4 linked regions of the Homo sapiens genome follow. The protein of the gene in region 1 purifies or fractionates together with the protein of each later gene. This does not show direct contact. Each region holds a gene or a part of one and is shown on either strand. Other genes may lie near its edges.

The links.
Region 2: the proteins of PFKL (region 1) and MAP3K3 purify together in Homo sapiens (tandem affinity purification; one large-scale study listed by IntAct). This does not show direct contact.
Region 3: the proteins of PFKL (region 1) and TFR2 purify together in Homo sapiens (affinity purification with mass spectrometry, with the first as the bait; one large-scale study listed by BioGRID). This does not show direct contact.
Region 4: the proteins of PFKL (region 1) and ABCF2 fractionate together in Homo sapiens (co-fractionation; one large-scale study listed by BioGRID). This does not show direct contact.

Annotation. Positions count from the first base shown.
Region 1 is NC_000021.9:44,315,786-44,322,101, forward strand, and holds part of PFKL (ATP-dependent 6-phosphofructokinase, liver type), read left to right. Parts: intron 1-458; coding exon 459-554; intron 555-646; coding exon 647-739; intron 740-2,684; coding exon 2,685-2,810; intron 2,811-3,565; coding exon 3,566-3,630; intron 3,631-4,298; coding exon 4,299-4,362; intron 4,363-5,943; coding exon 5,944-6,090; intron 6,091-6,316. UniProt on the Homo sapiens protein: Catalyzes the phosphorylation of D-fructose 6-phosphate to fructose 1,6-bisphosphate by ATP, the first committing step of glycolysis.
Region 2 is NC_000017.11:63,631,075-63,637,390, forward strand, and holds part of MAP3K3 (mitogen-activated protein kinase kinase kinase 3), read left to right. Parts: intron 1-1,606; coding exon 1,607-1,728; intron 1,729-3,634; coding exon of another isoform or gene 3,635-3,727; intron 3,728-6,316. UniProt on the Homo sapiens protein: Component of a protein kinase signal transduction cascade. Mediates activation of the NF-kappa-B, AP1 and DDIT3 transcriptional regulators.
Region 3 is NC_000007.14:100,628,048-100,632,613, reverse strand, and holds part of TFR2 (transferrin receptor protein 2), read left to right. Parts: intron 1-415; coding exon 416-532; intron 533-668; coding exon 669-808; intron 809-1,388; exon of another isoform or gene 1,389-1,458; intron 1,459-1,561; coding exon 1,562-1,725; intron 1,726-3,241; coding exon 3,242-3,361; intron 3,362-4,307; coding exon 4,308-4,390; intron 4,391-4,477; coding exon 4,478-4,541; intron 4,542-4,566. UniProt on the Homo sapiens protein: Mediates cellular uptake of transferrin-bound iron in a non-iron dependent manner. May be involved in iron metabolism, hepatocyte function and erythrocyte differentiation.
Region 4 is NC_000007.14:151,220,602-151,226,917, reverse strand, and holds part of ABCF2 (ATP-binding cassette sub-family F member 2), read left to right. Parts: intron 1-417; 5' UTR 418-459; coding exon 460-613; intron 614-1,929; coding exon 1,930-2,142; intron 2,143-2,803; coding exon 2,804-2,986; intron 2,987-3,068; coding exon 3,069-3,240; intron 3,241-4,301; coding exon 4,302-4,397; intron 4,398-5,237; coding exon 5,238-5,340; intron 5,341-6,316. Other genes in the region: ABCF2-H2BK1 (ABCF2-H2B protein), read left to right, coding at 460-613, 1,930-2,142, 2,804-2,986, 3,069-3,240, 4,302-4,397, 5,238-5,340.

The sequences.
Region 1 (6,316 bases):
GGCCCCTGGTTATAAGGATGAGCAGATGGAAGCTCACAGGGGCCCCAGGTACCTGGCCCAGGCTAGCCCGGGCAGGCCCCTCTGCCCTGTGCCCCGTGGAGCTGCAGCCCTGTGCGTCTTCCCGCCTGGAAGGCTTCACCAGACACAAGGGCCCAGCCCCAGCTGTGTGTGTGCTGGGCCCAGCCCCGAGGGCCCCCTTCCTCCCCTGCTGCCCTTCCCAGGCTTTCGGGCAGAGCCCTCTTGTTCACCGCCTCCAGGAGGGCGGGGCGTCCTAGTGGGCCCAGCCTCATCTCTGCCCTCGCGCTCCAGGCCTGCTTTCCTCCTGCTGGGTGGGGATTGTGCCCTGGCCCATGTGGGTTGGGAATGGTGGCCCCAGGGAGGGCTCCTGGCACCCGGGGGCTGTGTCCGGGGCAGGTTTCCCTGCCTGGCAGCTGAGCCCTGTCGTGTCTTTGACCCAGACTCGGAGCCGTGGGTCCCGACTGAACATCATCATCATCGCTGAGGGTGCCATTGACCGCAACGGGAAGCCCATCTCGTCCAGCTACGTGAAGGACGTGCGTGTGGGCCTGGGGGTGGCCACTGGGCACCTGCTCCTCTAGGCCGTGTGGGCTGGGGCTCAGGGCTGGTCCTTCCCACTGTCCTGCAGCTGGTGGTTCAGAGGCTGGGCTTCGACACCCGTGTAACTGTGCTGGGCCACGTGCAGCGGGGAGGGACGCCCTCTGCCTTCGACCGGATCCTGGTAAGTGGCCATCACCCTGCCCTGCGTACGTGCGTGGGTAAGCGTGGTGTGTGGGTGTGGGTGTGGGCAGTGTGCACGCGAGCATGGCACGTGCACTGTGTCCATGTGGCTGTGGGTGAGTGTCCGTGTCTGTGTGTGGGGGTGTATGTGTGGGGGACGCGTGGTCCTTGTGGGTGTGTCTGTGTGTGTCTGGTCCGTGTGGGTGTGTGTGGCAGTGTGTGTGGGTGTGTGTCAGTGTGGGTGTGTGTGGGTGTTCCCTCAAGCTGTTGCTCCTCCTGGGGGAGACTGAGGCCTGGCTTCTCCGTTCCCCTGCAGGTATAGGGAACTCAGACCTGGGGACCATGGGAGGCCCCCCACCAGCCTGTGCCTCCTGGCTGTTCTGACCCCCACCCTCTGCCAGCCCAACGTGGCAGCAGTCAGGGCCAGGGGCAGGCCCTGGGAGAGGGGCTGGGTGGGCAGAGGGTGGTGCCCATGGCGCCTGTGGCGTCACAGTCTGGGAGGCTGGTGCTGGGAGGGAGCATTCGGGGTCTGGCCTGGCCTCGCCGTCCTTGGTCCTGATCACCGCTGGGTCTCACTTTGTCCTCTGCAAAATGGGAATGAAGTTGGAGCCAAATGGAGTGGGTCTGGGGCCAGGAAGGCACCATGGTAGGCAAAATGCCTGTGTATGAGGGTGGTCACCCTCTCAGGCAGGGCCAGAGACTGTCAGACAGGTGGGACTTGTGCTGAGGGAGACCAGGTGACTGCGCCCAGCCCTGTGACTGCACCTGGCCCTGTGACTCGTGTGCTGAGCCGAGCATTCCCAGGGAACCCACACAGCTGGACGAGGGCCACTCTATAGAGGGGAGGCTTCCTCAGAGAGGGGCCCCGCCGACCTAGCCAGGCAGCTGCTGTCCCCTCTGTGAGGCCTCAGGCTCACTCTGAAGAGCCTCTTGAGGGGCCGGGGACATCAGGGCAAGCCAGCCGCTGCTGAGCCTGGGGTGATGGAAATGCCGCTGCTGTGACCGGGCCAGCCATGCACTCCCAGCCTGCAGGCTGCTGGGTTTTCCAGCCAGTGTCTTGGATGCCTGATGCCGGGTGTGAAACAAAGGACAGTTGATCGCCCCTAGCCGCGGCTGTCACCCAGAGCGTCAGCATTCTTGTGCTCCCTGAGCCCGTATTCCCACTGGGTGCTGCGAAGGGGCCAGGGGACCCTAGCACGTGCAGTGGTAACCTGCACTTTTCCAAGGAGCCTCATCCTGCATGGGGGGTGTCTCCGAGGCTGCTCCCTAAACAGCGTCCTGGAGAGACTGCCCAGAATAAGGTGCCGCCTGTGCCTCACTTGCAAGATGAAAAAACCTGTGTGGAACACGGAGGGCTGTCTGTGGCCCCGGGGGTCCAGCTGCTGGGCTTCTACAGGGCTGGCCACTGGTGGTCATGGGACGGCCACGGCAACCGCAGGCCTGGCTTTCTTGTCCACTGTGGCCGGTTCCCGGGGTGGGGCTGGGGCCTGCCTTTGCAGTGTGTCCCTGGGGGGCAGCTCCTGGATGTGTCCTCTGCCCAGCCCTTTGGCCGGTGCGGACACACACCAGGGAAGTCACGACATGAGGGCCTCCACGGGAGGATCCATCGCAGCGGATGGGGCCCTGGGGACCTGGCTCCCGCCCTTGCCTTGCGCGCCTAGCGATGGCAGCGAGCGACGGTGGGTGGGTCGCATTGCATGGCACCCTGCAGCCAGCAGTGCAGGCTGGGCCTTCCAGCAGGGCAGCGAGGACTCTGTGAAATGGTGTCTGGTGTGCCGTCGTGAATGCTGGTCAGACACGTTTCCATCTCTGATGCCACCTGTTCTGGAAGCTTCCGTCAGCGTGGGGGGCTCTGGAAGCTGGGGTTTGCACATCTACAGAGGATGGGCATGTGGCTTGGGGTAGAGGGACCAAGTGGGTGTGCCAGCCTGAACCCTTCCCCACAGAGCAGCAAGATGGGCATGGAGGCGGTGATGGCGCTGCTGGAAGCCACGCCTGACACGCCGGCCTGCGTGGTCACCCTCTCGGGGAACCAGTCAGTGCGGCTGCCCCTCATGGAGTGCGTGCAGATGGTAAGCCCTGGGCCCCCCCCATCAGAACCGCCTGGCCCCTCTCCCCAGTCCCCACTCACAGGCCCCACTGCTCTCTGGGGGCCCCAGCACTGTGAGCACCGGAGGGCAGGGCCTCGTGGCTGGCCCAGGGCATCCCAGGTCTCCAGGGAGGGGAGGGATGTGAGCACATCCCTGGGTGGGACGTGGGACCTGGGACGTTCCCCAGGAGGTGTGTCGGAGCTGCAGGGAGCCTGGTGAGCATGGGAAGTCACAGGGGTCCACGGCCACTGAGCTTCTGTAGGCAGTGGTGGGAGTTGGGGTTACGATGGGACGGAGGAGGAGGGGCCAGTGATCAGAGCAGAGCCCTGGGAGGAGCTCAGGCAGGTGATGGGGAACACTGGGGTGGCTGGAGCAGGGACCCCAGGAGAGGAGGTACGGGGAAGGCAGAGGCGAGGGGGCCGGGTGTGGGGGCTGGTCCAGCCCTGGCTCGGTGGGTTTGGAGGCCTGCAACTGGGGCAGAGTGCCCTGCCTGGAGCTGGAGCTGCTGAGAGGTGAGGAGGGCAGCTGGGGGCAGGGTAGGGCCTCCTGGTCTCAGCCAGCCCCAGAAGAGCTGGCCTTGGTGGTGACCGCTGTTCCTAGGGAGAGGCTGCCAGGCCTGGGCCAGGGTCAGGAGATGCCGGCCAGATCTGCCCTCGTCAGGCCCACCAGACAGGGCAGTAGCCATGGGTGTGCGGGCCAGGCTCTCCATAGTCTGTGTTCTGTTTCTCTTCCTTAAGACCAAGGAAGTGCAGAAAGCCATGGATGACAAGAGGTTTGACGAGGCCACCCAGCTCCGTGGTGGGTAAGCCCCCTCAGCAGACCCCTGCACTCTTACATGGCTGGGTCCCGGTGCCAGGCAGCATGTGCTGCAGTGGCGCTATGCACGCCTGGCCTGGGTCATCCTTCTAGGCACCGCGTCTGAAGATCGAGGGAGGAAGGGGCCTGCGGGTGGTACAGGAGGCGGGCTGGGAGGTGTGGTACCACAGGAGACCCTGGGCGGTGGCACGGGCAGGGCCCAGTGCACAGGGATCTGGGCATGGCGAGGGGATGAGAAGCTGTGGATACAAGCCCAGGACATGGGGTGGCCCCGCGGGGGCTGGGAAGGCTGGCAGATGTTGGGTGTGGGTACCACCCCCCTGCAGGCGTCCTGGCGGCCGGGTCAGGCTGGATTGGACGTCTGGGTTCCCATGCGTGCCTCCACCCGCTACCAAGGTGGCCAACCCTCCCTTGAGCTGGATGCCGGCCACGTGCTTTGCTGCACGGGCTGGCGTGGCCTCGTGTTGTGTTGGGGGTCTCGCACCTTCTGTGGAAGGTGCCCTGCCTGGCATGCGCGGTGTCTGCTGCCTCATGGCTGAGCTTCCATCGGGCCGTGTGCCTGTGACCAGCCTCCTGGGCTCTGTCACGGCTGCGCTGTGGCTGTACGCCGTGGCGCTGCAGGGCTGTGCATGGTGTGACCCGAATCCCTTCCAGGAGCTTCGAGAACAACTGGAACATTTACAAGCTCCTCGCCCACCAGAAGCCCCCCAAGGAGAAGGTGAGGCAGGGAGCGGCGCCCACAGAGGGAGGAACGGGCTCAGTTATTCTGCAGCCTCTTCACGCTGGCCCCGTGGCTGGGCCTGCCTGCCCCCACCTTCCCTCCTGCTGGGGTCCGAGCTGTGAGCTGGGAGGGTGGGCCTGACCTCTGCCTGGGCTCAGGCACCACTGTGGCTGGCAGGTCCCGGGTGCTGGGACCCTGGCTGCAGGGCTGGCTGTTGCTTCTCAGTGGTGGATGGAAATGAAGTCAGGCCACAGGCTTAACTCAGGAGAGGAGAAGCCATTGTGTAGAAAATGTCCCCCGGGGCCAGGCTCACACCTGTAATCCCAGCACTTTGGAAGGCTGAGGTGGCCAGTTCACCTGAGGTCAGGAGTTCGAGACCAGCCTGGCCAACATGGTGAAACTCCGTCTCTACTAAAAATACAAAAATTAGCTGGGCGTGGTGGTGGCACATGCCTGTAATCACAGCTACTCAGGAGGCTGAGGCAGGAGAATAGCTTGAACTTGGGAGGTGGAGGGTGCAGTGAGCCGAGATCGTGCCATTGCACTCCAGCCCGGGCGGCAAGAGTGAAACTCTGAAAATAAAATGTTCCCAAACAGCTGAAAACCTCAGGAAATGGGATCTCTCCAAAATAAGGATGAAATGGCTTGTTTCTAAAGTCCTGGGGGACGAGGGTCCTGTAGAGAGAGTCACGGCCAGTGAGGTCCTGGCTCCCAAGCCCCTTGAGCCACAGCCGGAGCTGCAGGCCGGGGCAGACAGCGTGGCCCAGCCTGAGTCTGGTCCTCCCTTCCATGGACATCTTTGGGTGTCCCTGCTGCTCCAGCCTCCTGCTTATCCCCAGAGCTAGTCAGCGGGCTCTACCCTCCGTGGTGGGGCAACCTGGTCTCCACGAACCCAGAACCTGGCAGGGGCGTGACTGGCTTTGTGGGCAGCAGGGCTGGCTCGTACCAGGACCCAGTGGGGCCATGTGGCTATGGAGCCCTTGGGTGTGGCTGCTGCCAAGTGGGATGTGCTGCACGTGACAGGTGCACGCCAGGTTCAGAGCCTCAGCACGGTGGGTGGAGGGGAGGTGGTGGCGGCCGTCACTGGATTCACATGGATGTGGTGGGGTTTTGGGTCCATCAGGTTAAATTAACTGTAGTCCTGATGGGACTGTCTCCATGTCTTTTCCCTTCCCTTAACGTGGCTACTAGAAAACAGGATAGCCAGGGCCCCTTCCTTACTCGTGGCTGTGCACCCCCCACCCTCCCGCCCGCTGCCAGCCCCTTGTGTGGGCACTGACCTGTGTTCCCGCCCGCAAGCCTGGCTTCACAACAGTGCTCGCCCCTTCTGCCTCCTCTGTTGCCTGCGTGCCAGGGGGCCAGGCTTGCACCGTGTCTCTTTTGGTCTTCACCAGAATCTTCTGGAATTAGAACAGATACCGTATTCCCAGGGCAGTTGGGCGGTGTGCTGGGCAGCGTCCAGGCTGCTGGCAGGGCCTGGCCCCTTTTTCCAGAACCTGCCGGCCTGCTGACCTCCTGTGCAGGTTGGGGGTCCCCTCCCCGGCTGTGCCTCACGCTCATCTCCCCTTCTCTCTGAAGTCTAACTTCTCCCTGGCCATCCTGAATGTGGGGGCCCCGGCGGCTGGCATGAATGCGGCCGTGCGCTCGGCGGTGCGGACCGGCATCTCCCATGGACACACAGTATACGTGGTGCACGATGGCTTCGAAGGCCTAGCCAAGGGTCAGGTGGGTCCGGCCGGGGCAAACAAGTGAGGACTTGGGCCTTCTGTGTGCACACTTGGGGCATTTCCTGTGGAAGGCCGGCTGCTGGAGGTGGAGGCTGAGACCTGGGTCCGCGTGTCGGTGCCCACCCGGGCCTGGGTACTCAGCTCTGCCTGCAGCGTGATGCCCAACACTGGCTGGCCCCCGGGCACAGGCCCACCCCTGGGGGGAATTGGCCAGAGGCTCAGGC
Region 2 (6,316 bases), on another chromosome or scaffold:
TCAGGTGTTTGAAATCAGCCTGGGCAACATGGTGAAACCCTCGCTCAATAAAAAATACAAAAATTAGCAGGGCATGGTGGTGTGCACCTGTAGTCCCAGCTACTCTGGAGGCTGAGGTGGAGGATTGTTTGAGCCTGGGGGTGGAGGAGGCTGCAGTGAGCTGTGATTGCACCACTGCACTCTAGCCTGGGCAACAGAGTGAAACCCTGTTTCAGTCAGTCAGTCAATCAGTTAATCAGTAGTGGGAGAAGAGACTTGAGCAGTTTTACTTCCTACATTTCATGCTGTTCGTTTCTTTCCACAGGGTATTAGAATATTTCCAAGGGACAGTGATAAAGGGTAGAAGATAGGCACTCTCTTTGGGTGGAATCTTTTGTATTTGCTTCTTTTAAGGTGTGCCCCAAGTCCCCAAATGGCTCAGTTGTCACCAAAGCAAGTGTAACAACTCATCCCTCATGTTCCCTTCACGATCAACAGATTTATTCATTTTCAATCTCCAAATGCTATTTGAATGGGCAAAGATCTCTTAAAGGACCTGGGAAAAATTTGTACAACATGGAATTGGACTGGTTTGTGTTCTGGGTTTTGGCCAGTTGTTTTCAATGTATGAGAACTCTAGTACTCCATGCTATTTCAAGAAAAGGGGATTAAAAGTAATGCCAGTAAGGTGGAGACAATGCATTGCTTGGTCAGCTTAGGGAGGAAAAACAATAGAACTACCCTTTGACTTCCCCATGGGAAGTAGTAGGCCTATAAACTTGTAAAGAGTTGTGGGGGTTGCTGGTGGTGGCGGCATTCAAATGCTAGGCTTGTAAAACAACTTCTGTTCAAAGCAGTTACCTGAGGCCCTTATTTGGTACCTTTTAAAGTGTGCTCTCCTCCTTATGATGCTTTAAGAATAAGTCTGGGACTGACACTGTGCCATAATCCTCTCTCTATGGATTCATCTTTTCATTCAGTACCATATTACATTGTACTGTGTTCTTCACTTCAATTTTTCATCTATTTTTCCTGGTTAAGTTTCTCTGGCACTGGACCAACTGCCCTGTTTGAGCGTGTCCCTTCCCTGCAATGAATTGGTAAATATTGCTGCAGGAAATCTGATTGGAGGGCTATTAAGAAACCATTAAAGGCCAGGCATGGTGGCCCACACCTGTATGTAATCTTAGCACTTTGGGAGGCCGAGGCAGGAGGATCACTGGAGTCCAGGAGTTGGAGACCAGCCTGGGCAACATGGGGAGACCCCGTCTCTACAAAAAATAAAAAAATCATCCAGGCATGGTGGTGCATGCCTGTGTTCCCAGCTACTCAGGAGGCTGATGTGGGAAGGTCACTTGAGCCCCAGAGTTGGAGGCTGCAGTGAGCTATGATCACGCCACTGCACTCCAGCCTGAGTGACAGAGCAAGACCTTGTCTCGAAGAAAAAAAAGAATCCATTAAAATTCAAATTGCCATAGTCTGACCTTTTGGGCTGCATCTGATTATAGTTACAGGGTCTGTCATTTTACCTGGGCAGAACTCCCTGAGTATTAGTTATACAGTTTGTGAAAGAGCTTTGCTGGTCTGTATTTAAGTGTCTTAGTCCATGTGCTCTCTTTCATTGCAGACGAACAGGAGGCATTGAACTCAATCATGAACGATCTGGTGGCCCTCCAGATGAACCGACGTCACCGGATGCCTGGATATGAGACCATGAAGAACAAAGACACAGGTCACTCAAATAGGCAGGTGTGTGTGACCCTGGCAGAGCTAAGTGAGATTTGTTGGGGAGGGGTTTTCAAATGGGAAATATACGAAAAGCCAAGGAGACTACATTACCAGGGTTGAATGCTTTTGACCCCTTCCTTTCACAGTCTGTTAAATGGGAAGTAATACATACCAACCAGGTATGGTTAAATGGTAAGTGATATTGGGAGGCCGAGGCAGGCGGATCACCTGAAGTCAGTAGTTTGAGACCAGCCTGGCCAACATGGTGAAACCCTGTCCCTACTAAAAAACACAAAATTAGCCAGGTGTGGTGGTCCATGCCTGTAGTCCCAGCTACTCAGGAAGCTGAGACAGGAGAATCGCTTGAACCTGGAAGGCAAAGGCTGCAGTGAGCCGAGATAGCACCACTGCACTCCAGCCTGGGCAAGACAGAGTGAAACTCTGTCTCAAAAAAAAAAAAAAAGTTATATATGCCATGCAGTTATGGATCTATGATTTGGAGTCTTAAAGCCTTGTGTAAGCATTTCATCTGTTATGGGGACAGTATTCATATTCGTTTTTCCCCTTTACTGATATTTGGCAAATATTTAATTCAGATTCATGATCCCTAAGTCAGAAGGTTTTTAGCTACCTTACAGTATATAGTCAGGAAAAACTAATTAATTTGGTATTAGCTTATGTAAAATATAATTAAGAAGGTAAATTTATTAATTAAAATGTCACCTAGTATATTCTGAAGGCAATAATGAGTGATTTTGTTATTACTGTTTACAGTTATTTTACCTTATTAACCTTATTGATAGTGCCTGTTTTATTGAGAGTTGTATGCTTCTTTAGGAAAACATTGCCTATTTTCCTTAACATTTAAACTTGTGTGTCATTGACAATCTTCTTCTCACCTGTAGTGCCACTTACCTGTTTCCTGGGTACTTTGTTCTGCAGAGAGGAGTGAATGATGGGGAGCTTTCCTACCTAGTGGGTATCCAGTGCTGTGTCAGCTAGCTATATTGGGCATGTTTGATGAAAATTTGTGTATGACATTCTCCCTTTTGGTTCTGTTTGTTATCAGCTAACCTCCTTTCTTCTCATTTGCACCTTGTTTACCAATTCTTCAGAATTGGTTCCTAGAGATAGTATAAGGCCCTAAAACTTTTCCTGTCTGTGGTCTGCTAGATAGAGCCTTCCAGAGTATTTCCTGCCTTTAGGAATCCTAGGGACCCCAAGGGAAGAGGAGTCCTTTTGTTTCATGTTAAAACAGAAGGATTAGTTTAAAAAGCTGCTTTTGTTGTTGTTACCTTATAGTACTGGAGGTATAAACAGATAAGGGCCCATTCTTACACTATTTTCATATGTTATTCAGTCTGACTGTGTGAGTTCTCCCTTGCTATAACTCATTTGTATTCAAAGCCACTTTTCGAAGGAGCATTTTACCAGAAGTGAGTCCCCTCCCCCTTGCTTGAGCCTAATGACCTCACTTTCCTTCCTGTCTTCCTATGTAGTGTGTGCTTGCTAACATTGCTCCAGTTAGCTGATCTTTCTCCAGACTGGACTATTAGCATGAATATCAGTTAGTGGGTGAAAAGGGGAAGCTTTCTTGAATTGGAAGGCCCAAAAGGACGAGGCTGGGAAAAGGAGGGGCGGAATGGTCACTGATGGTTCCTTGAAGGAGGATTCCTTTTTAGGACTCCTTCTGCTTAGAGCCTAAAAGCCATGATGAGGGAAGTCTTGATCTTTTGCTGTGCCTGCTGCTGCGCTGGTAGAGTGAAGTCAGTGGTTATGAAGGCAGAAGCCTAAAAAGGATTGACTGTTAGGAAGTAATCTTAACAAGAGGTACTAGATCTTTGGATCCATGATTTACTTCAATGTTGTCAAACTTATGTTGCACGAAGGATACAAATTATTAACCTCAGTTTTTTTGTTTTTAAAGAAAAAACACAACAGCAGCAGCTCAGCCCTTCTGAACAGCCCCACAGTAACAACAAGCTCATGTGCAGGGGCCAGTGAGAAAAAGAAATTTTTGGTAAGGATCCAGATTACCTGTTAAAGCCAAAATGTACTTTTAAATCTGCTACTCATGCTGCAACAGCAGAATTCACTTCCCAGACAAGTTGTTTTAGTGGATTTGTAAAAAGCATTGGTTACCCGTGACCTGTGTTCAGTGCTTCTAGTCACCATTTCTCACAACAGTATTATTCATAAACAGCCTCTATCAGTGCTGTCCAATAAACCTTCTGTGATGACAGAAATGTTTTATATCTCTGCTGTCCAATGTGGTTTTGTAGCCACTAGCTACATGTGGCTGTTGAGCAACTAAGGAACTAAATTTTAAATTTTATATCATTTTAATTAATTTAGACAGCCACATGTGGCTAGTGGCTATTGTATTGGACAGCATGACTTTATGCACTATGTAAGGGACTGTTGATTTATTGGGCAAGAAATTATGTATATGCTTGGAGATGTGTAGATATTCATTGGTATGTTCATTCCTTACACACGTCATGAGTTTCTGTACATTGTGATAAGCTAATAATGGGAATCCTACCTAAGATTTCTGTTTTAGGAAGAATGTGAAGATGTGGAACTAGAACAGCTGTTTAGAAATTGAAGCTCAAAGTTTTATGTTAATATGGGCAAAAGGGGAAATAAAATGCTAAGATAGCTTTTCCTCTTAATGAAGTCAAGGTTATAGAATGGCCTGTCCTGGGAAGTGTAGCAGATGTTTTGCTTCTGACCAAGAGGGATATTCTTCAGCAAAATTCTGAAAGCAGAAAAAGACAAAGTCTCAGCAAATGCATTTCTAGGAAAGATAGGGTAAGAGGTAGTGCGGGGAAGATGTTGGGGAGAGGTATTTATAGCCTAGTATAATGAAAGGAGCCTGGTGATATTAATAATCATTTAACATCGGATTTTATAATTCACAGAGTTACACATTTATTATTATTATTGTAGTTTTTGTTAGCCTAGGCCTGAGATAGAATGAAACAGTTTTCTTCATTACCAGTTCTTCTGCCAGAAAGTCCATGCTTAGGAAGAGAGAGGAATGAAAGATCAAAACCTAATTTAAATGGTGAAGAGTTGCCAAATTTGGTTAAGAAATGTCTAATTGGATTACAGATTCAAATTACAGAGTCCCAGTTGAAAGAAGCTAAGCATTTTGGCTAGCTGGAAAGGTTGTTTATTCAAGGGTGGAATGGGGCTGGCAGAGGCAAACAGCCTTTCACTATGAGAATGGCAGTGCTGGCTACAAGGCAGAGTCGAGACTGGCACAGCTTCATGGAGCTCAAGCTTGGCCCAGCAAGGAAAGCCAGAGGAGCTGTGGGTTCATTAACAGGATTGTTTGGGTGCCGAGGCCTGGAAGAACTGAAAAATCTAATTTAATATCTCTGCTTAGCAAGACTTGAGACATCCTTTTCCCTAAGTAAACAAGCTTGGTAAGTAATTGAAAAAGAGAATGGATTTGAGAACAAATAGGCAGCTATGGAAGTACATGGGCAGTGAGCTATTAACAATTTTCTAGGAGGTAGATTCTGTATTCTCTGTATTCTAGGAGTACAGAGAATACTGTACACTAGGAGCATTTGCTGTATTCTCCCTTTTGTATATTGGGTCTCTGGAAGCCTACAGCGTGGTTAGAGCTGACTGAATATTCTTAGATGTGTGGCACATCCTACGTGTGGCTGGGTCCTATGGATAGTTTTGCAGGCCATGATGTGCAGTGTCCCTTTAGCAGTCATTAACTCACAGTGAGTTATCAATGGGTGTTAGTTCTCTGTGGGTCTGACAACTTAGTATAGTGAAAAGAGTGCTGGCCTGTGGCTGAACATGCTGGAGAAGAGCTTGCCTGGCCACAGGGACACAGCCACGCAGATCCAGCATGTGTCTCCCATGTGCCAAGTGGAGCCCCCAGCCAAGAAGGCAGCCACACTAGCAGAGGGTGACAAGGACAATGACATTGACCTGTTTGTCAGCGACAATGAGGAGGAAGACAAGGAGGCAGCCCGGCTGTGGGAGAAGTGGCTGAGGTGGTATGTGGAGAAGAAGGCCAAGAAGACTGCGTTGGTGGTCAAGTCCTCCATCCCGCTGGACATCAAGCCTTGGGACAATGAGACCAATATAGCCCAATTGGAGGCCTGTATGCGCTTCATCCAGCTGGACGGGCTGGTCTAGGGGGGCCTCCAAGCTGGTGCCCATGGGCTACGGTATCCGGAAGCTGCAGATTCAGTGTGTGGTGGGGGACGACAAGGTGGGGACAAACTTTCTGGAAGAGGAGATTACCAAGTTTGAGAGCGTGTGTAGAGTGTCGATGTTGCAGCTTTCAACAAGGTCTGAAGCCTTAGAGTGTGTGTGCGTGCATGCGCACGTGTGCAAGTGTGTGAGGCCCTGCCACTATTAAAAACTGAGACCAACCAAAAAAAAAAAAAAAAAAAGAGTACTGGCCTAGGAGTCATAGAGTTGTTACTCATCTATTAATGTAGGATTTTATAATTTATAGAGTGCTTTCAACAACAGTTAACATCAATGCTATAAGCATGTGTATAAGGTTTACACAGCTTTTACACAAAGGTATTGAGTAGAGGCAGGAAGTAAATCCAAGCCTTCTGATTCC
Region 3 (4,566 bases), on another chromosome or scaffold:
CGCGCCACTGCACTCCAGCCTGGGCAAGAGAGACTCTGTCTCAAAAAGAAAAAAAAAAAAAAGAGAGAGAAACAGAGAAGGGAGGGAGGGAGGGAGGAAGGAAGGAAGGAAAATGTTGGCTGGTCTGGGAATTGAATCAGAAGGAAAAAAGAAAATGTTGGCTGGGAACAAATTGGGTGTTGGGGGAAATCAGATGGGGAAGGGAACAGAAACATGGGGTACCCTGGAGCCCGGTGGGGTTTGAGGGCTGCCTAGGAGCTGCTGAGGTTGGGAAGACACAGGCCAGGTAGTGCCCCCACATCCTCTCCGTGGGATGGACAGTTGCAAGCAAAGGCCTTGCCATTTCCTGGTTTCTCCTGCCCTTATGAATCGGGTTTTTTTCTGGGAGGAGTCCTCTAGTCACCTTCCTCCCCAGGTGACCAATGCTCAGGACTTCGGGGCTCAAGGAGTGCTCATATACCCAGAGCCAGCGGACTTCTCCCAGGACCCACCCAAGCCAAGCCTGTCCAGCCAGCAGGCAGTGTATGGACATGTGAGTCTGGGGAGGCTGGTCGTGCTGTTCCCAGGTCCCGAGGCCACACCTTCTTGCTCAGAATAGGGCTGGCATGTTTTTCGTTTTTCCTGGAAGCCCAGCTCGCAGCTTTGCGTGGGCACCCCTTTCCCTGCAGGTGCACCTGGGAACTGGAGACCCCTACACACCTGGCTTCCCTTCCTTCAATCAAACCCAGTTCCCTCCAGTTGCATCATCAGGCCTTCCCAGCATCCCAGCCCAGCCCATCAGTGCAGACATTGCCTCCCGCCTGCTGAGGTGAGGGGAGTGTTGGGGACCAGAAGAGGAGGAAGCAGAGAGAGGAAGGCTGCAGCGAGGCCACAGGGTGATTGTGGGTGAACTAGAAAAAGGTGACTCTTGTTTAAGCCTGCAGTGAGCCATGACTACACCACTGCACTCCAGCCTGGGAGACAGAGAGACCCTGACCTTTTTTTTTTTTTGAGATGGAGTCTTGCTCTGTCTTCCAGGCTGGAGTGCAGTGGTGCAATCTTGGCTCACTGCAACCTCCACCTCCCGGGTTCAAGTGATTCTTCTGCCTCAGACTCCAGAGTATCTAGGATTACAGGTGCCCCCCCACCACGCCCGGCTAATTTTTGTATTTTTAGTAGAGGGTTTCACCATGTTGGCCAGACTGGTCTCGAACTCCTGACCTAGTGATCCGCCCATCTCGGCCTCCCAAAATGCTGGGATTACAGGTGTGAGCCACCATGCCTGGCCGGGACCCTGACTCTTTAAAAAAAAAAAAAAAAAAAAAAAAAGTGACTCTTCTGGATGGACACAGCCTTTCTCCAGGGTCTACTGTCTGGCAACTAAAGTTCCCACTGGATTGCACACCTACCTCAGCTGAGAACCATCCAAGGCAGCCCTGACTGCACTGCCCTACCCAGGCAGCGTCCAGAGGCAGCGATCTGGAGCCAGAAAGGGTGGGAGGGAAAGAAATAAGGAAAAGAGTGATTTGGACTCTTCTGGGTCTCTCTACAACTTCCCCCTTTCTGCCTTCCTCCTCTCCAGGAAGCTCAAAGGCCCTGTGGCCCCCCAAGAATGGCAGGGGAGCCTCCTAGGCTCCCCTTATCACCTGGGCCCCGGGCCACGACTGCGGCTAGTGGTCAACAATCACAGGACCTCCACCCCCATCAACAACATCTTCGGCTGCATCGAAGGCCGCTCAGAGCCAGGTATGCTGTGTGTCCAGTATCACTCACAGCTGGTGGTGGGCTGGGGGAATTTCTGCCCATACACCCTGGCAAGATAGGGGGCTGGTGCAGGAGGCCCCAAGAGGGGACAGGAGTGGTGCCCAGAGGAGGGAAGCTGGCAAGTTGAGGCTGAACTGGGTCTGATGGTGGCAGCAGTGAACAGACCTCACCTTCCAGCCTGTCTAGTGATGGAATGGGGGTTGTTGCCCAGTAGTGAGCTCCCCAGCACTGGAAGTGAGTAAGCCTAAGTTGGATGATGTTGTAATAGAAACTCAAGCATGGGCCGGGTGTGGTGGCTCACGCCTGTAATCCCAGCACTTTGGGAGGCCCAGGCAGGTGGATCACTTGAGGTCAGGAGTTTGAGACCAGCTTGGCTAACATGGTGAAACCCCGTCTCTACTAAAAATACAAACATTAGCTGGGCCCGGTGGCATGCATCTGTAATTCCAGCTATTCCGGAGGCTCGGACAGGAGAATCACTTGAACCCAGGAGGTGGAGGCTGCTGTGAGCCGAGATTGTGCCATTGCACTCCAGCCTGGGCAACAGAGCAAGACTTTGTCTCAAGAAAAAGAAAAAAAAGAGAAAGAAAGAAAGAGAGAAAGAGAAAGAAAAAAAGAAAGAAAGAGAGAGAGAGAAAGGAAGGAAGGAAGGAAGGAAGGAAGGAAGACTCAAGCATGAAAGAAAGATCAGATCAGATTAGATAGAAGCATAGATGGCCCTTTCAAGCATAGCTAGATGTGGATGGCAGTGGAGAATTAAAATAAGTAATTGACAGATGGGGCAACAAAGCCAAGACTTCACAAAAAATTTAAAAATAAGAGAAATTGGCTGGGTGCGGTGGCTCACGCCTGTAATCCCAGCACTTTGGAAGGCCGAGGTGGGCGGATCATGAGGTCAGGAGATCGAGACCATCCTGGCTAACATGGTGAAACCCTGTCTACTAAAAATACAAAAAAATTAGCTGGGCATGGTGGCAGGCGCCTGTACTCCCAGCTACTCAGGAGGCTGAGGCAGGAGAATGGCGTGAACCCGGGAGGTGGAGCTTGCCGTGAGCCAAGATCGTGCCACTGCACTCCAGCCTGGGCAACAGAGCGAGACTCCAAAAAATAAATTAAATAAATAAATAAGTAAGTAAGTAAAAGAAATTAGCCGAGCATGGTGGCACACATCTGTGGTCCCAGCTACTTGGGAGGCTCAGGCAGGAGGATGGCTTGAGCCAGGGAGTTTGAAGCTGCAGTGAGCTATGATCACACCACTGCACACTCCAGCCTGGGTGACAGAAACCTTGTAAGTCCAGAATGACCTCAGGCACCCAGCTGAAGGAGCACACCATCCAGGAAGGGCCAAGTGGGGAGGGGCGCCCTCTTTAGGGACTGGAGGGACTGCAGGGCTAGGGTTGCCGGAATTGTGATGGGCTGAGAGACACAGGCAGATGGAGGATGCCCCCAGGGTGCAGGGTGCAGTGTCAGAAGTGGGTCCCAAACATCCCCTCCCCAGATCACTACGTTGTCATCGGGGCCCAGAGGGATGCATGGGGCCCAGGAGCAGCTAAATCCGCTGTGGGGACGGCTATACTCCTGGAGCTGGTGCGGACCTTTTCCTCCATGGTGAGCAACGGTAAGGTCAGGGCCAGGGCCTGGGCCTGGGCTAGGCAGCGGTGGGCCTGTGGCCCGAGGAGGATAGGGCAGAGAGGCAGTGAGGGACACAGACTGGCCAGTGGTCACTTGGACCTCGGCATCCACATTGTACCTGAGTGGCCCTGGGCCAGTCACTTCACCTCTATTTCGTCACCTAAAAATGAAAGTGAGGCCGGGTGCGGTAGCTCACGCCTGTAGTCCCAGCACTTTGGGAGGCCGAGGCAGATGGATCACCTGAGGTCAGGAGTTTGAGACCAGCCTAGCCAACATGGTGAAACCCTCTACTAAAAATACAAAAATTAGCCAGGCGTGGTGGAGGGCGCCTGTAATCCCAGCTACTAGGGAGGCTGAGGCAGGAGAATCGCTTGAACCTGGGAGGCGGAGTTTGCAGTAAGCCGAGATCGCACCACTGCACTCCAGCCTGGGCAACAGAATGAGCCTCCTTCTAAAAAAAAGAAAGAAAAGAAAAGAAAAAAAGTGACATGAATGATAATCATAGTCCATGGGTCTGTGTCAAGATTAAGCATGTTGGGCTGGACGTGATGGCTCATGCCTGTAATCCCAGCACTTTGGGAGGCCAACACAGGAGAATCGCTGGAGACCAGGAATTCAAAACCAGCCTGGGCAACATAGGGAGACTGCATCTCTACAAAAGTTTTTTAAAAATTGGCTGGACTTAGTGGTGCATGCCTGTAATCCCAGCTACTTGGGAGGCTGAGGCAAGAGGATGACTTGAACCTGAGAGGTCAAGGCTACATTGAGCCATGATTGCACCACTGCACTCCAGCCTGGGCGAGAGAGTGAGATCCTGTCTCAGAGAGAGAGACAGAGAAACAGAGACCCTGGGGGACCAGGACAGAAGAAGACAAGGGGAGGGTCTTTGCTTGGCCCCTGCTAAGCCTGTCCTCCTTCCCCTCTGTCCCCAGGCTTCCGGCCCCGCAGAAGTCTCCTCTTCATCAGCTGGGACGGTGGTGACTTTGGAAGCGTGGGCTCCACGGAGTGGCTAGAGGTGATACGGGGTCCCGGGCAGGTCGTTAGGCATTGGGGAGAGGTGGGGGTGGGGGGTTCCCACTCCACACTGGTCACCCACCCACAGGGCTACCTCAGCGTGCTGCACCTCAAAGCCGTAGTGTACGTGAGCCTGGACAACGCAGTGCTGGGTGAGCTGGGGCAGTGCCACCACCT
Region 4 (6,316 bases), on another chromosome or scaffold:
TGATGTGGAGAGGGACGATCGAGAAGAGGCCCGAGACGGACGGGAGGAGGAAGCCCGGAAAGTGAGGCGGCTAGCTGAGTGCGGAGCGCCAAGTTGTAGGGAAACCGGAGACGGAGACCTCCGCTGAGGGGCAGAACCTGGTCCCCAGCCGGAGGCCCTGAAAGAAGGAGCGTTTCCAAAGTGAGGCAGTCCGTGGGGGACTGGTGCCTGTGGGAAGAGATGTTAAGATTAGAAGAGCCGCTGAGAATCGGCATTGGTTTGGGATACCCTGACCAAGTTGGAACAGACGAGGCGGGGGCAGGCCAGGGCATCAGAGGCTTGATGTTGATACGAAGATTCCTGAGAGGGATGGAGCAGGGCCCAGGCATTCTTACTAGTAAGTTTAGGGTTTGGGGGTATCTGTTTGCCTTCCTTCAGGCTCCCTGAAACAACAGTAACCTACCCCTGTGGGTCATCATCATGCCCTCCGACCTGGCCAAGAAGAAGGCAGCCAAAAAGAAGGAGGCTGCCAAAGCTCGACAGCGGCCCAGAAAAGGACATGAAGAAAATGGAGATGTTGTCACAGAACCACAGGTGGCAGAGAAGAATGAGGCCAATGGCAGAGAGACCACAGGTGAATTGAGGGAGGGGTGAGTTGGGGATGGTTGCTAAGACTTAATGCATGCCCCAGCCAGAGTTGGAATCTTGATGCTGGGGGTAGTGGAGAATGTATCTGGTGTCATGCAACTTTTCATGATGAATCAAATCAGTAGAGTTGGAATTCGTGCCACCCTGTCATTGCGCAAGGAAGCCGAAGACGAGGTTCTCACATACTCAGTGGCAAGCGGATGTGAGAGTTGCTGAGCTGCCTTGCTGCTCTATTAGATTGTGAGGAGGGGATCAGTTCCCTGCCCCTTTCTCAGTTTCCATTTCTATGCATGGTGACCAATGTGCCAGGTTCTTTGCTACATTATACAATAAGCTTGTCCTCTCACTGGTGTAGTGGCTCTACCTACAAGAGAGTAACTTATGAGTTGATTTATGGGGTTTTTCCTGGGAGAGAGCTCCCTTTCTGTTATTTATATTTTGGGAAATATTTATTATTTCTCAAGTGCTAGACATGGTGCTATACACTGAGGCACTACCGTCTTCCCTCCAAAAACTTACCGTCTAGACTGGGAAACATGGCCATATGCGGTAAAGACTATTCCAGGCCCTTGGCAGTCCAATCCCAGCCCTCTTCCCTGCCCCCTGAAAACTCCCTAAACAGCCTTCTGCTCCATCCAGACTATTTATTATCTCTTGGATAGTCACCACATCTCTGTCCTTTCACACACTGAATTATAATACCATCATGTTTTTGCTAGCTACATTTGACATTTCTGTCAAGGCCCAGCTCAAGATAATGAAGCGTCTCTCAGTCAAACCTGACCACAGTATTTCCATTCTCTATACCCTTTTGCTGTCTTTTAGTGTTACTTACCTTTTTATGTTGTATCTCCTGTTTCTTTGTCTAAATTGTTTCATCTTTGAGTGCAAGGACCCTGTCTTGGGTTTTTTTTATGACTTGCTTCTCAGGTAGACACTAAGTAAATGTTTGAAGAGGAAAGGAGAATTAGTCTGCAAGTTGTAACAGATAGGCGTTCAGAAAAGGGGGACTTAGAAAGCAATTAGAAAGAGCAATAAAGTCAGGCTGTGGGGAAGTTTTATTCCTGGCCACAGTAGTGGAGGACAGAAGTTAAGAGTGATGGGAGTAAGTAAACAGATATGGGAGGACAAAACAAAGGAAAGCAGGGTGTCGGGGCAGCTCTGTGTCATTGTGCACTCTGTAAAGTTTGGGAAACATCTGAGTGCTCAGCAGGATTGGAGCCTGGTCCTTCAGGACGTTGACCTTTGTGGAGAGCCGAGTCTGTCTCACGCCATCTTCCCAAACTGCTTTTCTATCCGCAGAAGTAGATTTGCTGACCAAGGAGCTAGAGGACTTTGAGATGAAGAAAGCTGCTGCTCGAGCTGTCACTGGCGTCCTGGCCTCTCACCCCAACAGTACTGATGTTCACATCATCAACCTCTCACTTACCTTTCATGGTCAAGAGCTGCTCAGTGACACCAAACTGGAATTAAACTCAGGCCGTCGTTATGGCCTCATTGGTTTAAATGGAATTGGTGAGGCCTTGGAAGGGGAGGTGGGAGGTATCTCTCCTTAGCTCATCTGTCACTCACAAGCATTTATTTAGCATCAACTGTGTTCAGAGCAAAGCATTTAGAATAGGGATGGGAGACCAGATTATGTCCAGGGGAAAGGAACTAGCAACGCAGAGCAGTATGTGTTATGTACAGGTTGAGTATCCCTTATCTGAAATGCTTGGAACCAGAAGTGTTTCGGATCTTGGAATATTTGCATTATACTTACCGGCTGAGCATCCCTAATCCAAAAACCTGAAATTCTCCAGTGAGCATTTCCTTTAAGCATCATGTGAGCACTTAAAAGGTTTTGGATTTTGGAGCATTTTGGATTTTCAGATTAGGGTGCGTCCACCCTGTACCACATGATTAGTTACAGCAGGTGCTGGAGAAGTTGGTCAGGGGCGTGTGAAGCTGTGGTAAGTGAAAAAAGCTTCAGATAAGGGGTGGGGCAAGAATTGGAGGAAAGTTAGAAAGGAATCCCAAGAATGGGGGCTGGCAAGATTTGAACGAATGAAGGGAAGAAAGGTCCTCAAAAAAAAAAAAATGGATGAGGTCCCAGTTTGACTGGGGTGGAAGAACTAGTGGTGAAGAGGGATAGGGGAGTTCACTGTACCAAGCGTCTGCTGCTCTCCCCTCTCAGGAAAGTCCATGCTGCTCTCTGCTATTGGGAAGCGTGAAGTGCCCATCCCTGAGCACATCGACATCTACCATCTGACTCGAGAGATGCCCCCTAGTGACAAGACACCCTTGCATTGTGTGATGGAAGTCGACACAGAGCGGGCCATGCTGGAGAAAGAGGCAGAGCGGCTGGCTCATGAGGATGGTAGGGCTCCAGACCTGGGCATAGGGGTGGGCGTCCTCCCAGAAAGGCCCCCAGGAGCCTCATGGCCATACACTGTCCACAGCGGAGTGTGAGAAGCTCATGGAGCTCTACGAGCGCCTGGAGGAGCTGGATGCCGACAAGGCAGAGATGAGGGCCTCGCGGATCTTGCATGGACTGGGTTTCACACCTGCCATGCAGCGCAAGAAGCTAAAAGACTTCAGTGGGGGCTGGAGGATGAGGGTTGCCCTTGCCAGGTGAGTCCCTCCCTCCTTCCCTACCCCCATAACTCCCCCATCTCTCCAGTGTTTAGTGTTCACTCCAGTGGAACTGTTTGGAACAGGAGTCAGTGGTAAGTGTCAAATGAGACATGGACATCTGCAGTGTGGAGGGGGTTGTTGTGTATGGGCTAGAGAGAGAGCTTCCTGGCTGAAGTGGTAGAGTGACTCAGTTTTCTATTGGATTCTTAGCACCCAGCACAGAGTTTAGAGATCCTAGGGGTAGTCCTAGGTAAAACGGTGGAGTAGGTCTGTTTCTGTCCTCCCACCAGGATTCCCTTTCCACCCTTTTTGTACTCTAGTCCTGCTAATTCCAGCTGTAAAGATAAAATGTTAGACGGCTATTATGATAGCTGTCGTTCTTATTCTCTTGTGGCCTGGACTCAAAGTGAGTTTCCATAGACCAGCATTCCCCCAATAATCCCCCCAGAGTCACTAAACAGGTAATTCCTTGCCCCATCATTCTCTGTGAAGGGAATTTATAAGACTTGATATACTTCTCTAGAAAGTTGCCTGCATGTGCCTTAGAGTATAAGCACAGTGGTTCCACATGCTAGCAAGGATTAGCTGCCTCCGGTTCACCCAAGGAGCTTTTAAAAACACAGATTTCTGGTTTGGGAACCAGAGCTTTAGAGTCTATCCCTCGCTAGACTCTGGCCACCCCACAAGATAGGTCTATCTTCAGACCTTCAGATAGGTCTAATTTGTTTTAGCAGTTTATTTCCTCTGTATTTTTTTGTCTTCTCCGTAGTCTCCAACTTCAGTGCACAAGGCTCATAAACTCATAAAGACTTCTACAGCCTTGCCTCGAACTGTCCTTATATGCTTCTGAGCCCCGTATTCTACTCTTCAATCTCTTCTCTTCGACTCTTGTTTCTGTCCTGCTTCTCCTTTTCCCTCTGAGGTATAGAGCCTAAAATTGATTTCAAGACTCAAGCCAGGAGCCTACTCAGAATTGCATGTAGCAGGCAAGTTTGTCCCGTCCTGTGTCACATCCATTATAATTCTGAGGTGCTTCTGTCTCCTTTACCGTCCTTCAGAGCCCTCTTTATTCGGCCCTTCATGCTGCTCCTGGATGAGCCTACCAACCACCTGGACCTAGATGCTTGCGTGTGGTTGGAAGAAGAACTAAAAACGTAAGAGGGTGGAATGGGGGATGTGAGCGGGCAGGTCCCAAAGGGGGAATCTAGAAAATGGATGCCCAGAAACTGCACTGATGTTAGAGCGGTGAGAAAGGAACTGAAGGAAGGACAGAGTTCACTTTCTTGGACAAGCAGTGAGCACCTTTAGGGCTGTTGAAGGCTGGCCTTTTATTTTGATTGTTTTTCTTTAGTTTGAAATTTATGAGCTTTTTTTTTTAAAAAAAATCCTTGTTGGTTTTGTCCATATTTCAAATTCAAGATCTTAATTAAAGATATATTTTTTTTCTTAATTGTATAAAGCTAAAAAGAGGTCTTCCATCTAAGATCATGATGCAGTGACAAAGGAAAATATAGCCAATATGGTCATGGTCCTACAGCTAAAGAACTGAATAAGCTGGAATATTGTACCAATTTTAAAAGAAGGCTTTTAGTGGTACGATGACTTAGTACCTTCTTTCAAAAAGTAAAGCATTTTGTTTTTTATTGTGTCTGTACCAGTTCTTCCCACCCACAGTTTTGGATACATTCGTGGGTGTATTTGTGTACATACACACTTCTGGTTACTATCACTGTTACTACCGTCTCCATCCCATTCTGTTGAAAATTAGAACAGAAGATTGAGGAAACTCAGGCTGTCTCGCCACACTGAAAGGCGTCCAAATACCCTTACAGTTAGATTGTCGAGTCGTGGCTTAGGTGCTTGCTAACAGCCAGGAATTGGACAACACATCTAAAAGGTGCTTAGGGATGAGGATGGGCCTGACTTTCAGTTCACCTGTTGTCAGCTAGCTCCCATGGTTGAGCTCTTCACTAATTGGTTCTTTGGCTTTACAGTTTTAAGCGCATCTTGGTCCTCGTCTCCCATTCCCAGGATTTTCTGAATGGTGTCTGTACCAATATCATTCACATGCACAACAAGAAACTGAAGTATTATACGGTGAGTGGGCCTCGGCTTCTTCTGGTAATCTCTGTGCATACCAATTCTCTGAAATTCTCTTTAAAAAAAAAAAAAAAGGCTGGTGTGGTGGCTCATGCCTGTAATCCCAGCACTTTGGGAGGCCGAGGTGGGTGGGTCACTTGAGGTCAGGAGTTTGAGACCAGCCTGGCCAATATGGTGAAACCCTGTCTCTACTAAAAATACAAAAAAATTAGCCAGGCGTGGTGGCAGGTGCCTGTAGTCCCAGCTACTTGGGAAGCTGAGGCAGGAGAATCACTTGAACCCTGGAGGCGGAGGTTGCAGTGAGCTGAGATCACACCACTGCACTCCAGCCTGGGTGACAGAGCAAGACTCCATCTCAAAAAAAAAAAAAAAGCAGACCTATCTATTAGCTCCTTTCTACCTATTGCTATAAAAAGATATGGACAAGGAGTCCTACCACCTGTTTTATTTTAATCCCAAAGTCATTGCTTTCAGGCCATAGGCCATGGATTGGCAGCCTGTGCACACAAGGTGTATGTTTGCCTTGTGGCAAAGAAGTTGACTTTTCACGGTGACCAGGCAGGCCCTGCTCTCATCTGCCTTGCCTCTTTTTTTCTGGAAACAGAATCTCATTCCGTCACCCAGGCTGGCATGATCTCAGCTCACTGCAACCTCTACTTCCTGAATTCAAGCGATTCTTGTACCTCAGCCTTCTGAGTAGCTGGGACTACAGGCATGCACTGCCATGTCTGGCTAGTTTTTGTATTTTTAGTAGAGACGGGATTTTGCCATGTTGGCCAGGCTGGTCTTGAACTCTTGACTTCAGGTGATCTGCCCTCCTCAGCCTCCCAAAGTGCTGGGATAACAGGCATGAGCCACCACACGAGGCCTCCCTCTGCCTTCTTGAATGCCTTCTTAATTCTGCTTCACTGGAGTCTACACATTTACCCCACCTCCCATGACCACAGGAGAATGGGGGTCAGGATCTCAATAG